Linked DNA regions of Homo sapiens: region 2 is linked to region 1. The links come from fine-mapping of genetic effects on gene expression. A gene starts in region 1. The other region holds a variant in brackets. All regions are shown on one strand. Distances are from middle to middle.

Region 1 (2,898 bases):
GGGAAGGACCCCCTAAAGCCACCCCCATCCCAACCCCAGCCCGGGGGACTTGGGGCAGGGGCAGGCAGCTGGCCCTGTAGAGCTCTGAGCGTCCACCACAGTGACAGGTATGGAGCCAGCATGTGTGCAAGTCCACCAGGCAGCCCCCAGCCCCTCAGGCAACCCAGCCGCACGCCGCCGGAGCTCCTCTCGGCGAGTCGTGGCTCTGGGTCCCTGAATCAGGCAGCGCAACCAGAGGCCTCTTCAGGAGGCCCAGGGTACTGCAGGCAAGACCCTTCTCCCAGAGAAACCCCAATACGTCCAGGAAGCAACTGGGGCGCCAAGACGCCCAGGAGGGCTCACTGCTGGACTAGACACACTTTGAGAAAGGCAGCGGTACCCCCGCCTCCACCTCCACCCCCAGGTAGGAATCCAGGAAGAAAAGGAAGGCACAGAGGTTTGGGGAAGGCTAACTTTGCTCTGTCTCCCCTAAGCCTAGAATGACTCCGTACACGGCTCCCCTCTCTGCACCCATGGAAATTAATCCCACCGTGCCCCGGGCCTCCGCTCTGGTACAGACAGGGGCCCACACCAGTCCTGGACGCTCCCTCCCAGGCGGGGTGCTTGCTTAGTTAGTAATTCTTGCCCTGATCCCAATTCCTGAGGGGTGGTCCGGACGCCCCGCACTACAAGTGAGGTCATTTGAATCCCTGAAAGTTGAAGGAACTTGCCCCAGTGAGACTCCACTTTCTCCTTCAGCCTAGCTCCAAGGCCCACACAAAGCTTAAGTTTGGGTAAGTCCCTTCTCTGCGGCCTCGATTTCCTCATCTGAAAATGAAGACAATTCCGGAGCTGTCTACCTGACCGACGGGCTGCGGAGAATCCACACACCTTCGCCTTGGAACAAAACGCGAAGCGCCCACCGGCAGCCTTCGGCTCCCTGCCTTTCCTGACCGTTGGCACCTGCTGCCCTGGGCCTCAGCCAGCAACGCCCAAGGCGGCCCGGCGGGACCTGTGCCCTGGGCGCCCGCGTGCCGGCAGCCGCGTCTCCCGAGGGCCCCTCCCCGGCCTCCTCCGTCGCCAGCCTCCTCTCTCCCTTCGGTCTCCTCCTCCTCCCGCCCTTCCCGGCCTCCTCCCTCTCCTCTGCCTCATCCTTCCCCGGCCCGGCCTCCTCTCTCGGTGTCGACCCAGTGCCCCTCCTTCCCGGGCCCGCCACTGCTCTCCCTGGCCGGGGCCCCTCTCCCTCGCTCCGCTCCCGCCGCAGGACCCGGGAGTCCGCGCCTCACCTCGCGCCCCGCGCCGACCGCCGCACAAGTGGGTCCGCTGGCTTCCGCGGGTCAGTGGGCCCCGCGCTCCCTGAGGCGCTGCGGGGGCGGGCCCCGCACCCGGCCCTCGCCATGGCAACGCTACACTTCCGGCCCGCGGTACCCATAGCCGGAAGCCGCGGTGCCCCGTGGGAGCCGGGGGCGGAGCCTGGGAGGAGGAAATGTCGGGGGCGGGGCCTGGGGAGGGACGGTCGGGGGTGGGGGCCAACGCGGACAGCTGCGGGCGGCCGGGCGAGTCCTCCGCGGCTGGGACCTCCTTGGGGCGTGGGTGGGACGGGAATGGCTCAAAGTGCTCCAAGGCTCCCGGGACGGTGGTCATTGATTTATGCTGGACAAAACCGAGTCATCGCGGGCAACGGGACGGGCGCCAGCGGAATGGGTGGCAGCTTTGGGGGTGGTTTCGGGCCCAGGACAGTGCGGTCGGAGAAGAGCGGTCAGAACTTGGGGAGCCTCCAGCGCCCCACCAAGGAAGCGCCAGTGGAGAGGGGGGTGCCTTAAAACTTACGGGAGACCGGGCGCGGTGTCTCACGCCTGTAATCCCAGCACTTTGGGAGGCCGAGGCGGGCAGATCACGAGGTCAGGAAATCGAGACCATCCTAGCTAACCTGATGAAACCCCGTCTCCACTAAAAATACAAAAAAATTAGCCGGGCGTGGTGGTGGGCGCCTGTAGTCCCAGCTACTCGGGAGGCTGAGGCAGGAGAATGGCATGAACCCGGGAAGCGGAGCTTGCAGTGAGCCGAGATCACGCCACTGCACTCCAGCCTGGGCGGCAGAGTGAGACTCCGTCTCAAAAAAAAAAAAAAAATTATGGGAAAGGCCCGGCCCGGTGGCTCACGTCTGTGATCCCAGCACTTTGGGAGGAGGCCGAGGCCAGTGGGTCACTTGAGCCCGGGAGACCAACCTGAGCAACATAGGCAGGCCCGGTCCCTACCAAAAATTAAGAAATTAGCTGGGCTCTGTGGCGCACGCCTGTAGTCCCGGGACGCTGAGTCGGGAGGATCGCCCTAGCGGGGGAGGTGGAGGCTGCACGGGGCCCAGATCGCACCACTGCACTCCAGCCTGGGCAACAGAGTGAGACCTTGTCTCAAAACAACAACAACAACAAACACTTGTAGGAAAGAACGACGCCTTGCTGACCGAATGGGGTGAAGTGGCCACAAGTATTAGCCTCATGAGGCACAGGATTGTGCAGCCATAACCTAGGGAACACAGCAGAGAGGTGGTGGCAGGAGTCCTGAGGGAAACCACGTGGCGTCTGAGGGGAGAGTCAGAGATAGAAGGAAAAGGGGCACCACCCGACCGGGGGTGTGGGGGGCAGGAGCAGTGTGGTACCCCACATACAAGGCCCCTTGCGGCCCAGGCCTCCTCCTCCTGGACACTTGCTGCCTGTCCCTCCCCTCCACACCTCAGGGTGTGCTGGACCCCACCGTATGCTGCAGATTTTCAGCCCTTTGAGGTTATCATGGTGGAGGCTGCACAAGAAAAGCTGAATTCTCAGAGTGAAGGGCAAAAGCATATCCCTGGGCCCCCGTGTGTCTGGGGGCCCTTGGCCTGGTGCCAGCACCAACCACCGCTGCTAATTCCCAGAGCTG
Region 2 (2,898 bases), 140 kb before region 1:
TCCTGGAACACGTCTGCCTGCTTTGTGTCTGTGCCGCGAGGCCGCCTGTCAGGTCTGGGTCGCCTCGCCAGTCGCGGAAGCCTTGTATCCACAGAGCCAGCCTCGATGGAGCCGCATCAGCTCTGTCTCTTCCATTCTTGACTTTTAGAATTTCCTGCCCTTATACTTTAGATGTGTTTGGTATAGATCTTTACCAAGATCTTTAAAATCTTGCTGACAGTCTTTGTCTTAACTAGACTATTGGTCCATTTACATTACTGTAATTATTATATTTAAATTTATTTCCACCATCTTTCCTTGTACTCTGTCATTTGAGGACCAGTTGCTTTTTCGTTTCTTGACTTCTTTTGGATTATTTTTGTTTCTTTTTCTTCTCTACTGGGTTGGAATTTGCTCACTTGGCTTCATAGTGGTTGCCTCGGATGTTCTAACATGCAGAATTAATTTGTTGAAGTCTAAAATTAGTATTTTTGCCCTCCTCCAAACGATTCAAAGATCCAGGAACATTTTATTCTGAGCACTCCGTCCACACAGGACTTGCCCTCCCCGTTGCAGCCTGCATGCAGCATATTGTGTTTCTGTGGGTCCTGACCGAGTGGGGCCAGGACTGTGATAAGAGCTTCCCCTAGGGCTGGATGGTGGCTTTCTTCCTTGTTCACCTAAACCCTCCCAGTCTCAGCCTTGGGGCGTCCCCCGGCAGTAACTGGATCAGCAACCAGGCCTGGCCCAGCCTCTCTCCCCTGACTTCTGCAAAGCTGTGAAAGGAGCGGGCGCAGGCCAGCTGCCGGCCAGGGCCCTCCTGCGCGGGGCCTTCCTTTTTCCAGGTTCCTGCTTTTACTTAGGTTTTGTTCTCTAAGGTTCTGAACGTTCTTGCCAACCCAGTGATAGATTTTTAAAGTTTTTAAAAATATATCTTACCTGGTAGTAATGCTTGTTTGTTCATTAAAGGTCTGGTCAAAGCTGCATAGTTTACTCTGACAGAACGCAAGTGTCCACTCTGAATACATTGACTCCTGTCGGTGCTGTGGGCTGGGCTCGCACCTGAGGCTGGAGTGTTTTTCTCCCACCAGAACTGGGCCTCCTCTCCTGGGAGGGCGGCTCCGGGCACAGCCGCTCTGGCCCTCGGGTCATTGTGGCAGAGCCCGGAGTATCTGGGAGGTGCCATGCCTTCTGCTGCTTGTTGTGGTTTAGCCTTGGACTTGGCTGGAGGCTTCACAGAAGGAAGCCTGTGGCGGGTGGGGCTGCTGACATGGCCATGGGGGTGTGAGGACATTGCTGAAGTTTTTCTGGAACCTACGTTAAGAAACTGGAAGTGATTCCTCCCAGAGGCAGCTCACCTCAGCCTTGGCCACTCAGCCTCCGCTCCTCTGGTGCCCCAAGGCCCCCACGCTTTGCCCGGGACCCCTCACCTTGGGCCTGTGCAGACCCCATCGAGGCAGAGGCGGTCTGCCTGTGTCCCGCTGCTGGCAC[G/A]AGGCCGTGGGGGGCTCAGTCTTGTGTGTGTTTTCTGTGTCTGTCCCTTTCCTCTTTTTCTTTCCTGCTTTCTGTGGGGTAAATGAAAGTTTCTCCTCCTTTGTGTTTTTCCAGTTGATTTGATTATTTTCTTTGTCACCCTTAACATTGTGCATTCTGAGTCTTCCTACCCAAGTCGCAGTCACTCAGCTCTTCTGAGGAGTACCTGAGCGTGTGCGGCCCGCACTGAGCCGACCACATCTTGTTTGCCTGAAACTGTAGTTTTATCCCTTAGGAGAACATGAGCATGAGCTTTTGTTTTATTTTATTTCTGAGACAGGGTCTCACTCCTGTCGCCCAGGCTGCAGAGTGCAGTGGCGATATCTTGGCTCACTGCAGCCTCTACCTCAGGGCCTCAAGCCATCCTCCCACCTCAGCCTCCTGAGTAGCTGGGACTATGGATGTGCACCACCACGCCCTGCTAATTTTTGTATTTTTTCGTAGAGATGGGGTTTCACTATGTTTCGCAGGCTGGTCTTGAACTTCTGGGCTGAAGCAATCTGCCTGCCTCAGCCTCCCAACAACATGAGCTTTTAACCAGTGGTCAATTACATTCACCACTGTCTTCCTCCCACCTGCCAGGCCCTGCCCCCCAGCCCTTCCCGCCTCTTGCCTCAGAACCTCTTCTCTGGGTGGCACCTTGACTCCGGACCCTGTCGTGTTGATATGAAGCCATGGGACTGTCTCTTCCTGGGGTTTGTGGTTTTCCCACCCCTGGGAACTGGCAAGCTGCGTTTGAGGGCCTCTGTTGGCCTGGAAGCCCTGGGGGCCGTGGAAAACTTGGGAAGTGGGCGGTTTCTGTTCTAGAGCCCAGAGCCCTCATCAGGGAGACCTGGCAGGATGCAGCTTGTGCTGGCCTGGCCTGCTGCCCCTTTGCACAACTTCTGAGAGGGCACTGGTTGGCCTGCAGAGTCCAGGCTGAAGGCAGGGACTGCTCAGAGTTTATGTGATGTCATGCTAACAGGGCAGGCAGCTGCAGGCTGGGGCTTGGGCCACCCTGTGATGGGGGCTAGGACAGCACCAGCACAGCTGCCAACTGGGGCTCTGGGTGGTGAGTCTGGCCCCCTCCAACCATGTGCCTCCTGCAAAGCAGGCCTTCACAGGCTGGTGACAGCGGGGCTGCCAAGGGACGGGTCTGTGCCTGGCGTTTTCCAGTTGCTGTTCAGTTTCCCAGTTCCTTCCCGGCACCTTCACCTCGAGGGCACAGTGGCCACCTCAGGAGCTTGGCCCCAGGGATTCCTGCCGGTCCTCACGGCCCCTCTTCTGTACTCACAGTCCCTGCCTGTCCCAGCATCTTCTCACACGTAGGCGCCTGTCCTGGAGACGCAGGTGGATGGGCACAGGCGGTGCTCAGGGCAGCCCACTGGGTCAGGGGTCAGAGAGGGCGGT

What was found. PIP is the estimated chance that this variant, and not a neighbour inherited with it, causes the effect. A credible set is the group of variants that fine-mapping cannot tell apart.
Region 2: its variant is the best candidate, but not a certain one, in a credible set for the expression of PPP1R16A in whole blood (TOPMed, PIP 0.79).

What each region holds. Positions count from the first base shown.
Region 1 is chr8:144,476,495-144,479,392 of GRCh38, reverse strand. PPP1R16A (protein phosphatase 1 regulatory subunit 16A) reads right to left here and starts at 1,411. Exons shown (of 12, transcript NM_001329443.2): 1 at 1,266-1,411. RefSeq lists a silencer at 1,106-1,535 and an enhancer at 2,410-2,898.
Region 2 is chr8:144,620,705-144,623,602 of GRCh38, reverse strand. All of the region lies in intron 1 of ARHGAP39 (Rho GTPase activating protein 39), which reads left to right. Among named protein-coding and RNA genes, the nearest start is that of ARHGAP39, 64 kb to the left of the region's middle. The variant G/A (reference allele first, on the strand shown) is at 1,471.